5 separate regions of the Homo sapiens genome follow, and all the other regions are linked to region 5. Evidence: fine-mapped expression QTL. A gene starts in region 5. Each other region holds a variant in brackets. All regions are shown on one strand. Distances are between the middles of the regions.

Evidence for each region.
Region 1: its variant is fine-mapped to the expression of IL12RB1 in testis (GTEx, PIP 0.98).
Region 2: its variant is fine-mapped to the expression of IL12RB1 in whole blood (TOPMed, PIP above 0.99). The same link has a PIP of 0.9 or more in blood mononuclear cells.
Region 3: its variant is fine-mapped to the expression of IL12RB1 in whole blood (TOPMed, PIP above 0.99).
Region 4: its variant is fine-mapped to the expression of IL12RB1 in whole blood (INTERVAL, PIP 0.98).

What each region holds. Positions count from the first base shown.
Region 1 is chr19:18,064,752-18,068,751 of GRCh38, forward strand. IL12RB1 (interleukin 12 receptor subunit beta 1) reads right to left here. Exons shown (of 17, transcript NM_005535.3): 11 at 3,638-3,775; 12 at 1,791-1,946. Among named protein-coding and RNA genes, the nearest start is that of IL12RB1, 20 kb to the right of the region's middle. RefSeq lists an enhancer at 108-402. The variant T/G (reference allele first, on the strand shown) is at 1,561.
Region 2 is chr19:18,056,457-18,060,675 of GRCh38, forward strand. IL12RB1 (interleukin 12 receptor subunit beta 1) reads right to left here. Exons shown (of 17, transcript NM_005535.3): 16 at 3,438-3,629; 17 at 2,539-3,157. The coding sequence ends at 3,152. Among named protein-coding and RNA genes, the nearest start is that of IL12RB1, 28 kb to the right of the region's middle. The variant G/C (reference allele first, on the strand shown) is at 2,426.
Region 3 is chr19:18,283,295-18,287,554 of GRCh38, forward strand. It overlaps LOC124904652 (a long non-coding RNA gene), which reads left to right. Exons shown (of 2, transcript XR_007067154.1): 2 at 2,167-2,639. It also overlaps the pseudogene RPL39P38. Among named protein-coding and RNA genes, the nearest start is that of MIR3188, 3.3 kb to the left of the region's middle. The variant T/C (reference allele first, on the strand shown) is at 2,254.
Region 4 is chr19:18,036,041-18,040,300 of GRCh38, forward strand. No RefSeq gene overlaps it. Among named protein-coding and RNA genes, the nearest start is that of ARRDC2, 30 kb to the left of the region's middle. The variant G/A (reference allele first, on the strand shown) is at 2,132.
Region 5 is chr19:18,084,605-18,088,604 of GRCh38, forward strand. IL12RB1 (interleukin 12 receptor subunit beta 1) reads right to left here and starts at 2,330. Exons shown (of 17, transcript NM_005535.3): 1 at 2,156-2,330. The coding sequence starts at 2,219. RefSeq lists enhancers at 2,242-2,591, 2,602-2,661.

The sequences.
Region 1 (4,000 bases), 20 kb before region 5:
GCGTGAGCCACCGCGTCCGGCTGACTTGTTGGATCTTTGGGCAGGTGGATCTGAGGTTGGAGGCAGGATTGGACTCTGGAGGCAGGGCTTGGACACAGGACCAAACTGAGGACTAGCTAAAGCAGGTCCTGGGCTTTCCATAAGACACGCCCACCAGTGTGCCATGTCAGTTTACCATTACCATGGCAACACCCGGAAATTACCGCCCCTGTCCACGGCAATGATCCCACAACCCGGAAGTTACTACCTTCATCCTAGATATTTCTGCATAAACCGCCCCTTCATTTGCATATAATTAAAAGCGGGTATAAATATGAGACGTAGCTGCCCTGCCTGTGGGGCGTCCCCACTCTGCAAGGAGCAGGACTTCTGCTGCTGCTCTACACGGCCACTTCAGTAAAAGTTTCTGTCTAACACCACCGACATGCACTTGAACTCTTTCCTGGGGAAAGCCAAAAACCCTCCTGGCTAAACCCTGTTTTGTGGGCTTTCCTGTCCCTCATCAGATCCCCCCTCCAGGCCTTAGTTTCCTCATCTGTGGAATGGAGACAGTCATCCCTGCTTGATGAGAGTTCAGCTGCTGCTACATGTGAGGGGCAGCTTCCCATGGATGAATCCAATACACCATAAGCACTTGGCTGGTGCCCACCCAGCCTTCTCCAGGGTCTGCAAGGGGTGATCGAGACCCTCAAGTTCAGCTGGGTGCTCATGACTAATCCCAGCACTTTGGGAGGCCAAGGTGGGAGGATAGTTTGAGGCCAGAAGTTTGAAACCAGCCTGAGCGAGGCCGGACACGGTGGCTCACACCTGTAATCCCAGCCCTTTGGGAGGCCAAGGCGGGTGATTCACCTGAGGTCAAGAGTTTGAGACCAGCCTGGTCAACATGGTGAAACTCCGTCTCTGCTAAAAATACAAAAATTTGCCAGGCATGGTGGTGGGTGCCTGTAATCCCAGCTACTTGGGAGGCTGAGGCAAGAGAATTGCCTGAACCCGGGAGGCAGAGGTTGCAGTGAGCTGAGATGGCGCCACTGCACTCCAGCCTGGGTGACAGAGACAGACTCCCTCTCAAAAAGAAAAAAAAGAAAAAATCCCAGCCTGGGCAATATAGCAAGGCCTCATTTCTACAAAAAATAAAATATTAACTGTGCATGGTGGTGTGCACCTGTGTTTCCAGCTACTAGGGAGGCTGAGGTGGGAGGATCGCTTGAGCCCAGGAGGTTGAGGCTGCTGTGAGCTATGATGGCACCACTGCACTCCAGCCTGGGCACAGAGTGAGTCCCTGTCTATAAAATTAAAAAAAAAAAAAAAAAGACCCTCAAGTCTAATTCTCTTGTTTTTGTTTTTTGTTTGTTTGTTTTCGTTTTTGTTTTTTCTGAGACAGAGTCTCACTCTGTCACCCAGGCTGGAGTGCACTGGTACAATCTCGGCTCACTGCAATCTCCGCCTCCTGGGTTCAAGCGATTCTCCTGCCTCAGCCTCCCGTGTAGCTAGAATTACAGGCATGTGCCACCATGCCCGGCTAATTTTGTATTTTTAGGAGAGACGGGGTTTCTCCAAGTT[T/G]GTCAGGCTGGTCTTGAACTCCTGACCTCAGGTGATCCGCCCGCCTTGGCCTCCCAAAGTGCTGGGATTACAGGCGTGAGCCACTGCGCCCAGCCAATTCTCTTGTTTTAAGGGTTTGATAACCAAGGCCCAGAGAAGGACGGCAAGGTGCCCAGGGTCACACAGCAAGAGAGATCACAGGCCAGGATCCTCCCTTCCTCCCCAAGCCAGGTCTGCACTGCCTCACGTACCTGACACCTGTTTGCTGTCTTCATCTCGGCAGCGGACAACATACTCCTTTAGGACGCCGGGACAGGTGCTCAGCAGGGATGGTGCCCAGTCCACAGACACAGAGTCCAAGCTATGATTCTTCACCGAGACGTGGTGCGGTGTCCCAGCTGCTGAGGCTGCAACCAGTACCATTGTCATAGTCAACACCAAGAATGCTGGTCGAGGCCTGGCACAGTGGCTCGCACCTGTAATCCCAGCACTTTGGGAGGCCGAGGTGGGTAAGTCATTTGAGGCCAGGAGTTCAAGACCAGCCTGGCCAACATGGCAAAACCCCTTCTCTACTAAAAATACAAAAATTAGCCAGGCATGGTGGCGGACACCTGTAATCCCAGCTACTCAGGAGGCTGAGGCAGGAGAATCACTTGAGCCCAGGAGGCAGAGGTTGCAGTGAGCCAAGATGGCACCACTGCACTCCAGCCTGGGCAACAGAGCAAGACCCTGTCTTTAAAAAAAAAAAAAAGCCCAGCCACGATGGCTCATGCCTGCAATCCCAGCATATTGGGAGGCCAAGGTGGGTAGATCACTTAAGGTCAGGAGTTCGAGACTAGCCTGAGGAACATGGGGAAACCCTGTTTCTACTAAAACTACAAAAATTAGCCAGGCATGATGGTGGGCGCCTGTAATCCCAGCTACTCGGCAGGCTGAGGCACGAGAATCGCTTGAACCCGGGATGCAGAGGTTTCAGTGAGCCAAGATCGTGCCACTGCACTCCAGCCTGGGCCACAGAGAGTGACTCTGTCTCAAGAAAAAAAAAAAAAAAAAAAAAAAAGGAGTGCTGGTTGAGCACTTCCTGAATGCCCAGCCTCCCACTGTCCAGAGACGGAGGTAACATTGGCCACAGAGTCAGGTGAGCTGGGTTTTAATTCTGGTTCTGCCACTCAGTCACTGTCATTTCCCTTCCCTGGGCCTCAGTTTTCTTATCTATAAAATGGACAATGCTGGCCGGGCGCAGTGGCTCACACCTGTAATCCCGGCACTTTGGGAGGCCAAGGCAGGTGGATCACGAGGTTAGGCATTTGAGACCAGCCTGGCCAACATGCTAAAACCCTGTCTCTACTAAAGATACAAAAAATTATCCAGGCATGGTAGTGCACACCTATAATCCCAGCTACTCAGGAGGCTGAGGAAGGAGAATGGCTTGAACCCGGGAGGCAGAGGTTGTATGATTGCAGTGGTGCAATCATAGCTCACTGCAGCCTCAAACTCCTGGGATCAAGTGATCTTACCACCTCAGCCTCCTGAGTAGTTGGGACTACAGGCACATGCCACCATGGCTGGCAAACTTTTTTCTTTCTGTAGAGACGGGGTCTTGCTATGTTGCCCAGGCTGTTCTTGAACTCCTGGGTTCAAGTGATCCACAAGCCTCAGCCTCCCAAAGTGCCAAAGTGCTGGGATTACAGGGGTGAGCCATTCTGTCTGCCTTAACAGCATTGTCCTTTTTTTTTTTTTTTTTTTTTTTTTTGAGACAGAGTCTTGCTCTGTCACCCAGACTGGAGTACAGTGGCATGATCTCAGCTCACTGCAACCTCCGCCTCCTGGGTTCAAGCGATTCTCCTGCCTCAGCCTCCCAAGTATCTGGAATTACAGGCACCCGCCACCACACCCGGCTAATTTTTGTATTTTTAGTAGAGACAGGGTTTCGCCACATTGGCCAGGCTGGTTTCAAACTCCTGACCTCAGGTGATCCACCCACCTTGGCCTCCCAAAGTGCTGGGATTACATGCGTGAGTCACTGTGCCCAGCCTCTATTTTTTTAAATTATTTAAAAAGAAAAAATAATGTAAACCTGCAGGTTTGGGTCACTTACCATTGCCCCCAAAGTGGTAGGTGGACAGGACCGTAGACCACAAGGTGAGCTTCTCGGGGTGCGCAGAGGCAAAGATGGTAATGTAGTAACACTTTTCCTGCCCCATTGCCCCAGACTCTCGACTCCAGCTGTAGGTTGCTGGAAGGATAAGCAAAGGCCAGGCCATTCAGTAGATTGTGTTCCCACCTCTGCACCTTTGCACTGGCTGTGCCATCTGCCAGGAACCCCCAGAAAACTCCTACTCATGTTTCAAAGCCCTTGCACCAATATCCCCTCCTCCAAGATCTCTTCCCTATGCAACACCCCCAACCCCATCCCCATCCCCCTCTAACCCAGCCCTTACTCCATGGAACCAGGGCTTCT
Region 2 (4,219 bases), 28 kb before region 5:
TCTCCCACCTCAGCCCTCAGCCTCCCAAGTAGCTGAGACTACAGGCATGTGCCACCAAACCTGGCTAATTTTTGTATTTTTAGTAGAGACGGGGTTTCACCATGTTGGCCAGGCTGGCCTCGAACTCCTGAGCTCAAGCGATCGGCCCGCCTTGGCCTCCCAAAGTGCTGGGATTACAGGTGTGAGCCACCGCGCCGGACCCTGATTTCTTAAATGAATGAATGAAACTGAGCTGTGAAATGGGGGCTAACACCATCCTGACTCCTGGAGCTGCTGGGAGAAGCTGAGGCAATGGCTGCTCTGAGGAGCCCTGGAGTAATAGTTGCATAGCAGTTGCTCAATAAATACCAGGCCAGGGCCCAGCTAAGCAAACTTGCTGGGCCCATTGAGAAAAGGACTCCAAATCCCTTCCTATTTTATAGACGGGTAAGCAGAGGCCCAGAAAGAACCTCCTGTTGGTCATTTTCTAGGGACAGAAGAAGGACTCAAAGTGGCTTCATCAAACAGGGAACTGAGGCCGGGTGCAGTGGCTCATGCCTGTAATCCCAGCACTTTGGGAGGCCAAGTCAGGTGGATCATTTGAGCTCAGCAGTTCGAGACCAGCCTGGGCAACATGGCAAAACCTTGGCAACAAGGCTTGAGCCTGAGGCTGAGGCTGGAGGATCACTCGATCCTAGGAAGTGGAGGTTGCAGTGAGCCAAGATGGTGCTACTGCACTCCAGCCTGGGCAACAGAGTGAGACCCTGTCTCAAAAAAGAAACAAAAAATAAAAAAAAATATTTATTTATTTATTTATTTATTTATTTATTTTTTGAGACGGAGTCTCGCTCTGTCGCCCAGGCTGGAGTGTAGTGGCACAATCTCGGCTCACTGCAACCACCCCCTTCCAGGTTCAAGCGATTCTCCCGCCTCAGCCTACCAAGTAGCTGGGATTATAGGCGCTTGCCACCACGCCCAGCTAATTTTTGTATTTTTAGTAGAGACGGGGTTTCACCATGTTGGCCGGGCTTGTCTCAAACTCCTGACCTCAGGTGATCAGCCCGCCTCTGCCTCCCAAAGTGCTGGGATTACAGGCGTGAGCCACCATGCCCGGCCTAAAATATTTTTTAAAAACAGGAACCAGATGGAAAATATTGGGTTTCAGGTATGGCTGGATCCAGGAACTAATGCTTCATCTCGGTGCTGCTGTCCTCCCTGCAGGCTCCTCTCTCAGACAGGCATCCCCACGGTAGGAAGGAAAGAGGCTCCAAGCTCCAGGCTTCCCTCTGTCCAGCTCAGTCTCCCGCTAGTGGAAGCAGGGTGTGCATCTTCCCCATGCACTCTGGCAAAAGTCCCAGCTGCTGCCAGTAAACATTGCCTGTCTCCTACTTCTCGCACCCAAGGGACTGTGCATAGGGGTGGGTTTGCAGCCAACTCCAGGGGCCTCCAGGGCTCACACCTGCAATCCCAGCAGTTTGGGAGGCCGAGGCGGGTGGATCACTTGAGGTCTGGAGTTCAAGACGAGCCTGGCCAACATGGTGAAACCCTGTTTCTACTAAAAATACAAACACATTTTAGCTGGTCAGGGTGGCGGGCGCCTGTAATCCCAGCTACTTGGGAGGCTGAGGCAGGAGAATCGCTTGAACCCGGGAGGTTGCCGTGAGCCAAGATCGCGCCATTGCACTCCAGCAACAAGAGCCAAACTCCGTCTCAGAAAAAAGAAAGGAGGATAAACGCTCAAGGGAGGGCATGCCTGGTGGAGGGAACGGCTTGAGCAGAAGCTGGGATGTGGCAGATCCGGAGCGGGGCGGGGGGCATTTGCAGAACTCTGACCAGCCACCGTGTGGCTGGGGCACCGAGATCCAGGCCTCTGTTTCCCTATCTAGATGCATCGATGGGGAAAGGGAGGCCCCCAGACCAAAGGGGCGGGGCCTGGGCCTCTTGCCTCCTGGCCCTATTGGCTGCCAGGGGTCTCTCCCCGAGAGGTCTCATCCTTTTTTTGCCACAAAATTCAGTAGTTCTGGGCTTTTTAACTCCCCTCCTCTGTCTGAAACCGGAAAAGTCTGTTTAGCAAACGCGGTGGGAGGAGGCAGGGCGGGCCCGGCCGGGGAAACGCGCGCCGCTGTTGCCACCTGGTGGCCATGGGGAGAATCTGGACTACCCGCTAATCGCCAGGGCTGGGGTGGGATTTCAGGAGCCCCCCCCCACACCTCGGCTCAGACCGCAGTGGGGATCAGGGGGAGGCGGCTGCAGAACGCGAGGGAGGTGGGGCAGTGTGGGCAGAAAGAGGGAGGATTCAGGGTGTGTAAGGGGGGCAAGGGTCCTGCTGCGAGTTGGTGGGCGTGAGGAGGAAGGAGCGTGGGGGCAAACCACGGTTCCTGTTACCGGAGTGCCCGGCTGCTCCACTCCCCCTAGGCCGTCCCTTCCCCTGCTCAGTCCTAACTTA[G/C]TAGGGTTCCAAGCTCTCATCCGGCTCTGTCTCCCCCGGATTAGGTGCTCCTGGAGGAGACCTAGAGGAAGAGATTAATAAATATATGTGGAATGAATGAATGAATGAATGAATGAATTCCAAGGCTCGTGTTTTGAGATTTTGAGCAGGACATTCAAGCTTCAAACAGGAAAAAAATACCCAAGAGGAGGCTCATTTACGATGATTTTGAACAGCTGTGTAAGGTCATTATCACCACCCCCATTTTATAGGGGGGTGAGGGTGGGGTGGGGGGTGGGATGGGAGGACCGTCATTTTTCCCACAAAGTTTACAGCCCCCTTCCCTATATGCCTGGATCCTCCAAGCTACAAGACCCCGCAATGCTGCAGGGAGCCCTTGAGTCCAGACTCCCCATCCAGTGCTCCTGGGGGTGGATGCCCAGCCCAGGGTCCAGGGATCCATCTGAGCCCCCCTTGCCCCCATTCCCAGTCCATTCTACGCCAGAACAGGTAAATGGCAGGGTCTGCTCCTGCCCCACGGATGCCAGGCCCAGCAGGGTGCAGCAGCTTCCATTTCATGGCAGCATCTAGGGTTCCCCCGCAGGATGGGTGGCAACAGGCACGGGGCAGAGAGGAGGCAGGTGCACTGGAGCCTGGAGGAGCTCTGGGTTATTTGGGTCCAAATGTGACTCCTGTGTGTGCTACGTAGCCTCGGGCGAGTCACTCACCCTCTCTGAGCCTCAACGATCACATCTGTAAAGTACAACAGTCATGGTTCCTTTCAGGGGGTGGTTGTAGGGATTTGGTAGGGAATCATGTGAGTGGATGGAATGGGCTGGGTATGCCATAAGTGCTTAATAACCAGCCGTTGTGATTGAGATAGTCGCTCTTCGTGTCTGTAAGACAAAGTGGATGTTTTCGTTTCTCCCTCAGGCCTCCAGGCCCTGATATCCCAGGAGCGATGGATGTCTAGCCCCCCCACCCCCCGGGCAGGGTTGCACCCCTGACCGTCTGGCCCACTGGGCCCCAGGACCTTGGCCTTGCACCTGTCTCCATCCTCCAAGGACAACTCTGTATCCAGGGCCAGCTCAGGGGCACCCTCAGGTAGCTCTGTCTTCTCGAGAGGCTCAGTCCTCTCGCCTTTGTCCCAGGACATCTCTACCACCAGGGCCTCCTGCAGGGATGCCTCTTCCTGGAAGTCCACTGGGTTGATCCACTGCCAAGTCTGCAGAGGGAGGGTAGGGCCACAGCTGTGAGCAGAGCTCTACTTCCCATCCACAGCAGGATGGAACGGACCAGGTCACTGCTGGTTAAATTCTCTAACATCCTGAGACCTGGACGGGTGCAGTGGCTCACACCTGTCATCCCAGCACTTTGGGAGGCTGAGGCGGGTGGATCACTTGAGGTCAGCAGTTTGAGACCAGCCTGGAGAACATGGCCAAACCCCATCTCTACTAAAAATACAAAAATTAGCTGAGCTTGGTTGCGCACGCCTGTAATCCCAGCTACTTGGGAGGCTGAAGCAGGAGAATCGTTTGAACCCGGGAATCAGAGGTTGCAGTGAGCCGAGATGGCGCCACTGCACTCCAGGCTGGGTGACAGAGCGAGACTCCATATATCCTGAGACCGATTTGAGGATGGAGTCTGCCGCACTGACTCCCATTCAGCCCCTCTTAGGAAGAGCACTCCCATCTGTCTTTGGGAAATTTCCCTCCCTCTTTTCACAGATGGTGTGGTTGACAGTGCAGTGACCCCACCTCAGCTCTAGCAATGGTCATGTGACCCTGGCCAGCCCACCCATCAGACCCTTCCCTA
Region 3 (4,260 bases), 200 kb after region 5:
CACCTGTAATCCCAGCTACTCAGGAGGCTGAGACATGAGAATCGCTTGAACCCGGGAGGCAGAGGTTGCAGTGAGCTGAGATTGTGCCACTGCACTCCAGCCTGGGAGACAGAGTGAGACTCCAGTCTCAAAAAAAAATAAAAAATAAAGGTGAATGCAACAAAAGGTTGCTTGTGTGGGTGGTCTCTAGCCTCAGTTTGTCTGCCTGGCCAGTGGGCATGCGTTACTCCTTTTCTATCCTCCTTACTCACCTGGCTCTGCCCCCAACTGGGGCATGAAGGCCATAAGGGAGGCTGTCCTCATCACCAAGAGAGGTGGCCTGTCGGCCACACGCGGTGACTCCTGCCTGTAATCCCAGCACTTTGGAAGTCTGAGGCAGGCATTTGAGGTCAGGAGTTTGAGACCAGCCTGACCATCATGGTGAAACCCCATCTCTATTGAAAATAAAAATTAGGCTGGGCGCAGAGGCTCACGCCTGTCATCCCAGCACTTTAGGAGGCCAAGGCAGGCTGATCACGAGGTCAGGAGATCAAGACCATCCTGGTTAACACGGTGAAACCCTGTCTCTACTGAAAAATAAAAAAAAAAATTAGCCGGGCATGGTGGCGGGCGCCTGTAGTCCCCAGCTACTCGGGAGGCTGAGGCAGGAGAATGGCATGAACCCGGGAGGCAGAGCTTGCAGTGAGCCGAGATCACACCACTACACTCCAGCCTGGGCAACAGAGCGAGACTCCGTCTCAAAAAAAAAAAAGAAAAAAGAAAAGAAAAAAAAATTAGCCAGGTGTGGTGGCAGGTGCCTGTAATCCCAGCTAGTCGGGAGGCTGAGGCAGGAGAATCGCTTGAACCCGGGAGGTGGAGGTTGCAGTGAGCCGAGATTGCGCCATTGCACTCCAGCCTGGGCTACAGAGTGAGACACTGTCTCAAAAAAAAAAAAGAAGAAAAAAAAAATAGGCTGGGCGAGGTGGCTCACACCTGTAATAAGCACTTTGGGAGGCTGAGGCGGGCAAGTCATCTGAGGTCAGGAGTTCGAGACCAGCCTGGCCAATATGGCAAAACCCTGTCTCTACTAAAAATACAAAAATTAGCCAGGCATGGGGAGCGCACCGGTAATCCCAGCTGCTCTGGAGAAAGGAGAATCACTTGAACCCAGGAGATGGAGGTTGCAGTGAGCTGAAATCATGCCACTACACTCCAGCCTGGGCAACAGGGCAAGACTCCATCTTAAAAATAATAATAATAATAATAATAATAATAATAATAATAATAATAAAGACCTGGCCTGGCAGGCCTGGGATTCAAATTGCCAGGGCAGGGAACTGGAGGTGTGGGTTTGTTTTGTCTCTAGATTGGTTAGGAAGGTGTCTGTCTGCCTATTGGAGTGTGTGTCTGTGTGTGCACCTGTGTCTGTCTGTATTCGTGTTGTATAGACAGACGCAGGTACACACAGATACATACTCAGATCCATGGGTCTCTGTGCTCTCTAGCCCAGGTTCTATCCTGGACAAAGAGATCCCTAGTGGGACAAGATCCAGCCCGCAGACCTGTAGCCAGCCCTGCCCTGGGAACCCCTCTCTGGGTCCCGTGCAGTGGGGCCAGAGTGGAGGAGACGGGGTCATGCCTCTCCCTGAGGCAGGAGGTGAGTGGGCGGCCTACAGAGGCCCTGCCCTGAACTTGGGCCTCAGCCTTGGCAGCTGGGGAGATGGTCTGGTGAATGGTAGGCTGAGACAGCCTGAGCTGAGTGGAGCACTTTCCTGCAGGCAGGCAGGTGAGATACAGAGGCCTGTCAACCTCTCTGAGCCTCAGCTTTTCCTTCATGAAAATTGAGCAAATAAACCTACCTACTTTGTGGAGTATCGCGATTTTTTTTTTTGAAATGAAAGGCCTCACATATTTATTACTGAACCCAGCCAACCCACACGTTCATAACAGATTCAGAGAGGAAAACACGTCGAACTCTCCAGATAGTGGTGACACTTTCAGTTTGATATGCTAACGTGATCGTGACCTTCAGACAGCATAAATATGTGTGCCATCTCATGTGCAATTCCTTATAGACCCAGCTTGGTTCTTCTCCAGTGTCCTTTTGGAGTTGTACCTGATTTTATTTCCAGTTTTCATCCAAATCCACTGGGGAATGGGACGATTTTGCTTTTGTTTCTTGTCCAGGAATCGCTTAATCCTGAAAGTCTTGTAGGAAGATATGGCGAGAAGTGGAGTCAAGAACACACCACGATGGTGCAGAAAGGAAAAGCA[T/C]TGCGATTTTTATTGGATTTGAAGAAATAGTAAGGGGTCAGGCTGGGTGTGGTGGCGCACGCCTGTAATCTCAGCACTTTGGGAGGCTGAGGCAGGTGGATCACGAGGTCAGGCGTTCGAGACCAGCCTGGCCAACATAGTGAAACCTTGTCTCTACTAAAAATACAAAAATTCTCCCGGTGTGGTGGCGCACGCCTTTAGTCCCAGCTACTTGGGAGGCTGAGGCAGGAGAATCACTTGAACCCAGGAGGAGGAGGTTGCAGTGAGCCGAGATCGCGCCACTGCACTCCAGCCTGGGCAACAGAGTGAGACTCCAACTCAAAAAAAAAAAAAAAAGAAAGAAAAAACAAATAGTAAGGGGTCAATAAATGCTTTCTATGATTGTATTATTTGCCCAAATGTAACTGCAGTTCTTTGGTTTTGAGTTCTCTCAGCTTGGAATACCCTTACACTCTTGGCGAACTCCTACTCATCCTTCAAAACCCACCACCTTCTCCAAGAAACCCTTCCTGACCATGTCCCCTAGGACCGTCGTCAATCCTCTCCATCTGGCTAAGACCTGTCTGTCCCTTATCTGTGTCTTGTTCTGTCTCCTCCATAGAAGGGGAGGGGAGGTCTTCAGGACTGGATGGGGAAGGCCTCTCCTGGCCCCTAAGTGTGGGAAGCTGCCTTTGCCACCCCCAAGGGCTCCTTTCTTCTTTTTTTTGAGATGGAGTCTCGCTCTGTCGCCCAGGCTGGAGTGCAGTGGCTTGATCTTGGCTCACTGCAACCTTCCCCTCCTGGGTTCAAGCGATTCTCCTGCCTCAGCCTCCCTAAATAGCTGGGATTACAGGCATGTGCCAACACGCCCGGCTAATTTTTTGTATTTTTAGTAGAGACGGGGTTTCACGATGTTGGTCAGGCTGGCCTTGAGCCTGACCTCATGATCTGCCCGCCTCAGCCTCCCAAAGTGCTGGGATTACAGGCTTGAGTCACTGCGCCTGGCCTCCCTTTTTCTTTCTCTTCGCATTTTCTGTTGCTCCACCTCAATGCCCTTTCCTACCCTCTCCTTCCTCCTCCCAGCCAGAGAGCCCTCTGGGACACCCCATTCCTGTCCTTCCATTTATCCCAGCCCTGACACCACAGCAGCTGTTGGTCCAGCTCTGTTTTCCCAGAGTGGGGGTTCCTCCGGGGCAGATCTGAAGCCACTTTGGACATATGGGGCGGAGGGTGTCTCTAACGCCATCAGCTAGTCCCATACAATGAACTAGAGAGAACTTTCATTCATTCAATCCACATACACTGATTGAGCCCCTACTGTAAGCCAGGGGAAAGGGCACACATGAACAAGACCAACATCTGCACCTTTGTAGGTCCCCACACCAAGGGAGAGCCAGACCGGCGCAGTTTTCAGGAGAATCAATGGTGTCCCCGCCATAGATGGTAGTGGAGGGGGCTGATATTTTAGAGTTTGGGTAATCTGGGAGGGGTGGCCCAGGATGTAACACCAAGTGACAGACAAGCTGGACTTAATTGCCAATTATTGGGGGATCAGAGGGTTCCGGTAATAGGAACAGCCAGTTCAAAGGCCCCGGGGCAGGAACCAGTTGGACACATTTCTAGAAGGTGGGGAGGCAGGTGGGACTGGATTGGGAAGCCAGTGAGTGCCAAAGGAAGAGAAGGGGAGTGCCGAAGCCTCCACCTCTGCTCAGGAGGGATTTACCCCCAAGGCAATGAAAGTTGCAGATGAGGTTGGGGCAACACTAGGGCTTGGTCCGGGACTCTGCATTTTCACCTTTATCTCAGCAGCAGCTCCACGAGTGGTGAGGGACGTTATCCCACTTCTCAGGGCAGTGTCTGGAGGGGGCGCGCGACGTGCCCAGAGTCGTACAGGCCAGGCCAGAGAGAACCCTGCCCTCCAAGCAGAAGCCGAACCTGACGCCCCGCAGCCGCCGGGGTTTGAATCGCTGCGGCTGTAGTCCTTCCCCAGCGCAGAGATTTATTGTTTAAAGCAACCTGCAGGCCGGG
Region 4 (4,260 bases), 48 kb before region 5:
GACTTCCCAGGTGCAAGTGATCCTCCTGCCTCAGCCTCTCGAGTAGCTGGGACTATAGGTGCATGTCACCGTGCAAGGCTAAAACTTTTTTTTTAAAGAGATGGGATCTTGCCATGTTGCCCAGGCTGGTCTCAAACTCCTGGGCTCAAGCGATCCTCCTGCCTCGGCTTCCCAAAGTGTTGAGATTACAAGTGCGAGCCAATGCGCCTGGCCTTATCGTTGCTTTTGAGGTGAGAAGATGGAGGTCCAGCATCCAGGGCCAGATTTGAGCCCACTGGGTCCTTTGTCTCTAGCCTTAGTAGCACTGGCCATGAAATGGGACTTTAGCCAACTGCAGGTGACCAAGAGCCAACCTTGCATCTCAGGCTGCTGGGCCCCTCTGAGCTCAGCCCCGGGGGCTTGTTGCAGGAAGGCCCCTCACTTTTATTTATCCCCCCACCCCCACTGTATATGTAACTGTCTGAAACTCACTGTTAACCCCATAAGGAAAAATGTGCTGGCTGGGCACCATGGCTTATGCCTGTAATCCCAGCACTTTGAGAGGCCGAGGTGGGAGGATCACTTGAGGTCAGGAGTTCGAGACCAGCCTGGGCAACATGGTGAAACCCCGTCTCTACTGAAAATACCAAAATCAGCCGTACATGGTGGCATGTGCCTGTAATCCCAGTGTCTCAGGAGGCTCAGGCAGGAGAATCGCTTGAACCCGGGAGGCAGGGGTTGCAGTGAGCCGCGATCACACGACTGCACTCCAGCCTGGGTGACAGAGTGAGACCCCGTCTCAAAAAAAACAAAACTCATTCAACTGTACTTTATTGGATATAAGTTACACCTTAATACACTTGACTCAAAATTTATGTATTTAATATTTTATTTTGAGAATGTGAGAAAAAAAAAAGTAACGTAAGAATAAAATCCAGGCCAGGAGTGGTGGTTCACACCTGTAATCCCAGCACTTTGGGAGGTGGAAGGATCACTTGAGCCCAGGAGTTTGAGACCAGCCTGGGCAATGTAGGGAGACCCCCCATCTCTACAAAAAAAAATTTTTTTTAATTAACCAGGTGTGGCGGTGGACACTCAGAATGTTACAGAATGGTTCTTGTGACTAGGCCTTTAGTCACAGCTACCTGAGAGGCTGAGATGGAAGGATCACTTGAGCCCAGAAAGCTGAGCCTGCAGTGAGCCGTGATGGTGCCACTGCCCTCCAGCCTGGGCAACGGAGTGAGACCGTCTCAAGAAAAAAAAAAAAAAGAAGGCCAGGCGTGGTGGCTCACGCCTGTAATCCCAGCACTTTGGGAGGCCGAGGCAGGTGGATCACCTAAGGTCAGGAGTTTGAGACCAGCTTGGCCATCATGGTGAAACCCCATCTCTACTAAAAATAACAAAAATTAGCCGGACATGGTGGTGGGCGCCTGTCCTACCAGCTACTTGGGAGGCTGAGGCAGGAGAATCGCTTGAACCCAGGAGGTGGAGGTTGCAGTGAGCCGAGATCACGCCATTGCACTCCAGCCTGGGTGACAGAGTGAAACTCTGTCTCAAAAAAAAAAAAAAAAGAAAAAGAAAAAGAAAAAAATTCAAATGCTTTATACAAAGTCTTCTGTTTTGGAAAACTCGTGTTATTAGTTCCAGCTCTGGAATGATGAAGAGTGGTCTCTTGCTACATACCCTAGCTATCCAGATGTGTCTGTTCATGTTCTTTTTCTTGCTTCAAAATAAAACACATCTGTGTTTTAAGTTACAAGTATTAACTTGCTATATTCAAAGAATTCATGAAACATATGTGAGCATACCATTAAAGAAACACAGAAAAAAAGGAGAAAGCAGTCAATTTATTTATTTATTATGGAGACAGGGTCTCAGTCTGTCACCCAGGCTGGAGGGCAGCGGTGCAATCATGACTCACTGCAGCCTCGACTTCCTGTCCTCAAGCGATCCTCCCGCCTTAGCCTCCCAAAGTGCTGGGATTACAGGAATGAGCCACCACACCCAGCCTTAAAGCAGTCAGTTTAGAAGTGGAGATAGTATGGGTTACAGCCATACTGAATCAGGCACCATGGCTCCGGTTCCATGCGTAATAGCCCTGGAACTATCAATCTGGATAAAACAGTCCTTTTTATTTATTTTTTTTGGTAGA[G/A]ATGGGATCTTGCTATGTTGCCCAGGCTGGTCTTTTTTTTTTTTTTTTGAGATGGAGTCTCGCTCTGTCGCCCAGGCTGGAGTGCAGTGGCATGATCTCAGCTCACTGCAAGCTCCGCCTCCCAGGTTCACGCCATTCTCCTGCCTCAGCCGCCCCAGCAGCTGGGACTACAGGTGCCCACCACCACGCCTGGCTAATTTTTTGTATTTTTAGTAGAGACGGGGTTTTACCATGGTCTCGATCTCCTGACCTTGTGATCCGCCCGCCTCAGCCTCCCAAAGTGCTGGGATTACAAGCATGAGCCACCACGCCTGGCCTGCCCAGGCTGGTCTTGAACTCATGGGCTCATGCAATCCTCCTGCCTCAGCCTCCCAAAGAGCTGGGATTACAGGTGTGAGCCATGGTGCCCATCAGTCTGAGACATACAGATGCGTGCCTCAGTTTCCTCACCTGTACAATGAGGTTCATCACCCCCTTGCACATGGGGTCATTGTGAGGACAGGGTGGGTTGGGCCTGGTGCAGTGGGCATTGTCAGAGCGGGAGAAATAAGTCCCAGGTTGGATTTAGTGTCTTTTGTCTTCTCAGCTGTGTTCATTTGTTTTACACTGGTGTGAGCCAACCTAAAGTCTCACTCTGACATCTTGTCATCATCCAAATGGCCAACTGCTAATCATCAAGCACTTCCCTGCCAGCGCAGCGAGGCAGCAGCAGTGATGTCCCAGGATCAGCCAGTTCCTGGTCACATCTCATTGCACACCTGCCCCTTTGAAATGTCCAGTCCTGGGGCTGCTTAGATTCTAGAACAATCTTGGGAGCGAGGAGCCCAGGCCAGGGTGGCATCCTGTGGTCTTGATCCCAATACCATGCTGTTCCAGGGTCACTTGGAAGCTGGACTCAGTATCCCAGTCGGGGAGCTGGTGGCTCAGGCAAAGGGACGCAGAGGAGCCCTGTTGCAGACTCAGCAATGTGGCCCTAAGGGAGCTGGGTGCAGCGCAGTGGCCCACGCCTGTCATCTCAGCACTTTAGGAGGCCAAGTGGGAGGATCACTTGAGCCCAGGAGTTCGAGACTAGCCTGGGCAACATGGCGAAACCTCGTTGCTACAAAAATACAAAATAGAGCCGCGTGTCGTGGTTCGCCCTTGTAATCCCAGCACTTTGGGAGGCTGAGGAGGGTGGATCGCCTGAGGTCAGGAGTTCGAGACCAGCCTGGCCAACATAGTGAAACCCCCCTCTCTAATAAAAATACAAAATATTAGTTGGGTGTGGTGGTGGGTGCCTGTACTTTCAGCTACTTGGGAGGCTGAGGCAGGAGAATTGCTTGAACCCAGGAGGCGGAGGTTGCAGTGATCCAAGATCATGCCACTGCACTCCAGTCTGGGTGGCAAAGCGAGACTCCATCTCAAAAAAACAAAAAAATTAGCCAAGCATGGTGGCATGCACCTGTGATCCTAGCTACTCAGGAGGCTGAGGCAGGGGAATAGCTTGAACCTAGGAGGTGGAGGCTGCAGTGAGCCATGATTGCGCCACTGCACTCCAGCCTGGGAGACAGAGTGAGACCATGTCTTTAAAAAAAAAAAAAAAAAAAAAAAAAAAAAAGCAGAAATAGCAGCTGTGAGAAAATATAGTAGAATCAGGAACGTAGTGGAGAAGAAATCATCTGGTGCCATGGAAGTTCAGGACAGACCCCTGCATCAAGAAAGAGGAGACTGTGCCACTGCACTCCAGCCTGGGCGACAGAGTGAGACTCCATCTAAGTAAAAAAAAAAGGTTGGGCACGGTGGCTCACGCCTGTAATCCCAGCACTCTGGGAGGCTGAGGTGGATGGATCATGAGGTCAGGAGATCGAGACCATCCTGGCTAACACGGTGAAACCCCGTCTCTACTAAAAATACAAAAAATTAGCCGGGCGTGGTGGCGGGTGCCTGTAGTCCCAGCTACTCGGGAGGCTGAGGCGGGAGAATGGCGTGAACCCAGGAGGCAGAGCTTGCAGTGAGCCGAGATTGTGCCACTGCACTCCAGTCTGGGCGACAGAGCAAGACTCTGTCTCAAAAGAAAAAAAAAAAAGAAAAGAAAGAGGAATAAAGGAATCAAAAAGTGTTTCCAACTCTGCAGGGAAAGACACAAACTG
Region 5 (4,000 bases):
TCATCCATACACCCACCCATCCATCCATTTATCTACCTACCGATATATCCATCCAGCCATCCATCCATCCATCCATCCATCCATCCATCCATCCATACATACATACATGTATTTATTAATTCATCCATCCATTCATTTACCCACCCATCCACCTGTCTATCCATTCATCCACCACCCTTTAGTCCTCAGAGGTTGAGATGCATATTTGGGAGACACTCTCGGGAGGTACCCCTGCAGGAAAGAACAGTAAGACCAACAGTCTGGAGGGCAGAGAGAAGTGGAGGTGTGCCTGGGGTGGCACCAGTGTCTGAAGCCAGCATGGGGAAAGACAGTAGAGGGTGCATGGCAGGGAGAGGCCTGCCAGGGCTGGCCCAGGCAAGCACACTTGGCCCACTAGCAGTCAGGGCAATTATTAATAACATTTCTCCAGGAGGCAGCGACCTCCCTCAGCCACTGGGATCCCCGTGCCCTTTGGGATTGCCACAGTCTGCTAGGTGTGGAACTGGGTGAGAGAAGGAGGGGGATGCCACCATGGATGGGTCAGGAAGACCCCGGCGCCCTCACTCCCACAAGAAGGACCTGTCCTGAGCCCTGCAGGCAGATTGGAAGCCTTGGGGGAGAAGGCGGCACCCCAGGAAACAGCCCCAAGTGTCCAACCTTGAGGGGGGAAAGATGCTTAACACACAAGGCTCTCCATCCTTCCATCTCTCTCTGTGATGACACAGAACCCCCACCCACCCACCCACCCCTGAGAGCCTAAAGCCCATCCTCCTTCCCTTTCCCTGGACTGACCACTCACTGCCACTATCTCCAGGATACCTCGTGGGCTGCCTCTCGCCCCCTCCCTGCTGCTGGTCTCCAGCCATGCCTGGCCCCTGAAGGCGCTGGGACCTTGAGGTGTGGCCAGCACTGCTGTGGGCATTCTACAGGCACTCAGTGCATCTCAAGAGCCATTGAAAAAGTCAGCACCCCGCTGATCCCCAGTGTACAGAGAAGGAAAGTTTATTTATTATTATTATTATTGAGATAGAGTCTTGCTCTGCCACACAGGCTGGAATGCAGTGCTGCAATCTCGGCTCACTGCAACCTCTGCCTCCTGGGTTCAAGCGATCCTCCCACCTCAGCTCCTAAGTAGCTGGGAGTACAGGTGCCCATCATCAAGCCTGGCTAATTTTTGCATTTTTAGTAGAGATGGGGTTTCACCATGTTAGCCAGGCTGGTCTCGAACTCCTGACCTCAAGTGATCCACCCATCTTGGCCTCCCATAGTGCTGGATTTTCAGGAGTGAGTCACCGTGCAGGGCCTGAGATTATTAAAAGTATATGGGAAGGCTGGGCATGGTGGCTCATGCCTGTAATCTGAGCACTTTGGGAGGCCAAGGTGAGTGGATCATTTGAGCCCAGGAGTTCGAGACCAGCCTGGGCAACACAGCGAGACGCTGTCTCTGTAAAAAGTATACACCAAAAAAATTAACCAGGCATGGTAGTGTGCACCTGCAGTCCCAGCTACTCAAGGGGCTAAGGCAGGAGGATCACTTGAGCCCAGGTGGTCAAGGCTGCAATGAGTTATGATTAGGCCACTGCACTCCAGCCTGGGACACAGAGTGAGACCCTACCTCAGTAAATAAATAAATAAATAAATAAATAAATAAATAAATAAATAAATAAGTAAAGTATACGGAAGGATGTGCATAGGTTATATGCAAATACTTTACCATTTTATATCAGGAACTTGAGCATCTTTGGATTTTGGTATCTGCAGAGGGTCCTGGAACCATTGCCCCGTAAATATGGAAATGACTGTATACATTATATTATGTATGTCTATCTATTGTAAACTACATACATAAGATACTATACTATGTATACCTATTAGATACATACTTGCTTTTTATTCCTTCCTTAGTTTTTTTTCTCATTGAACTCCGGGAGGTGGAAAAAATTTAGTGCATTTCACAGAAGAGAAAATCTAGACCAGAGGAAAGATGTCTAAGTTCGATCCCAGAAGCCATGACTGCCCATCTCCCATTTGACAGCAGGAAAGACTGAGGCACAGAGAGATGAAACCAACCCACACAGCAGGCCCACAGCTCTCCACACATACACGTGCCTCCACCCAGCAAGAGGAGCCGCCATGCCAGGGTCAGGGGACTCACCGCCCTGCCTGGACAGCAGGAAGAGGAAGAGGAGGGGGACCACCCAGGTCACCAGCGGCTCCATCGGATCCACGTAGAGCCCCACAGCCCCAGGGGAGCCTCTCTGCCACCTGCGAGGTTCAGCCACCCCGTCCCCACTCCGGAACACATTGAAGCTGAGCAAGGAGAAAAGACTGAAAAAAAAGAAAAAAGAAAAAAAGTAAAGTGTCACAGCCCATCCCTAAGGCAAGTCAAAGTGAAAGAGAAACCCAGGAAGTCAGCTCCGTGGTGGTGGTGATGGTGGCGGCCACAGACTCTGGAGCAAGTCTGACTTTGGAGCAAGTCAGGGTTCTAGGGGGTTCTGCCCTGCTGGCCCCAGACCTGAACTGAACACCCAGATGCCAGCCCCATGGGCCCATGGGCCACCTGTGGTTCCATGCACTTGGCCAGGTCTCTGGCCCTCTCTAGCCAATTTTTTTTTTTTTTTTTGAGATGGAGCCCTGCTCTGTCGCCCGGGCTGGAGTGTGGTGGCATGATCTCCACTCACTGCAACTTCTGCCTCCCGGGTTCAAGCAATTCTCCTGCCTCAGCCTCCCGAGTAGCTGGAATTACAGGCAACTGCCACAACATCGAGCTAATTTTTGTATTTTTAGTAGAGACAGGGTTTCACCATGCTGGCCAGGCTGGTCTCGAACTCCTAACCCTAAGTGATCCACCCACCTCAGCCTCCCAAAGTGCTGGGATGACAGGCGTGAGCTACCGTGCCTGGCTGCCAAATTCTTTTTTTCTTCTTTTGAGATAGGGTCTTGATCTGTGGCCCAGCTGTAGTGCAGTGGTGCAATCACGGCTCACTGCAACATCAACCTCCCCAGGCTCAGGCCATCCTCCTACCTCAGCCTCCCCAGGAACTGGGACTACAGGCATGCACCACCACGCCCAGCTAATTTTTGCATTTTTTTTTTTTTAAGAGAGGGGGTTTTGCCATGTTGCCCAGGCTGGTCTCAAACTCCCGGGTTCAAATGATCCGTCCGCCTTGGCCTACCAAAATTCTGGGATCACAGGCGTGAGCCACCGCACCGGGCCATCTCGCCAGCTTCTGAATCTGAGACTCAAGAGCTGAAGGAGGGCAGTGTTCTTGGATGGCCTAATTTCATCCTTCCAACAAATTGTTACAAAGAGCTTGCAGCATGCTGGCCCTCCACAATGCCCACCTCCCCACATGCCAAGCTCCAGCCTTGTGCACCTGGGCTCACCCCTCTAATCCCAGCACTTTGAGAGGTCGAGGTGGGAGGATCACTTGACCCCAGGAGTTTGGGTCTACCTAAACAACATAGCAAGACCCCATCTCTATAAAAAATAAAGAATTAGGCCAGGCGCGGTGGCTCACGCCTGTAATCCCAGTACTTTGGGAGGCCAAGGCAGGTGGATCACGAGGTCAGGAGTTTGAGACCAGCCTGACCAAAATGGTGAAACCCTGTCTCTACTGAAAATACAAAAATTAACCGGGTGTGGTGGCAGGCACCTGTAATCCCAGCTACTGAGGAGGCTGAGGCAGGAGAATCGCTTGAACCCAGGAGGTGGAGGTTGCAGTGAGCCGAGATCGCGCCACTGCACTCCAGCCTGGGCAACAGAGTGACACTCCATCTCAAAATATATATATATATATAAATTAAAAGTTAGCCAGTCGTGGTGGCACACATCTGTATTCTCAGCTACTCAGGAGGCTGAGGTGGGAGAATGGCTTGAACCCAGGAGGTTGAGGCTGCAGTGAATCGTGATTGTGCCACTGCACTCCAGTCTGGGTAACAGAGCAAGATCCTGTCTCTTAAAAAAAAAAAAAAAAAAATTTAAGAGATGCAACTTAGT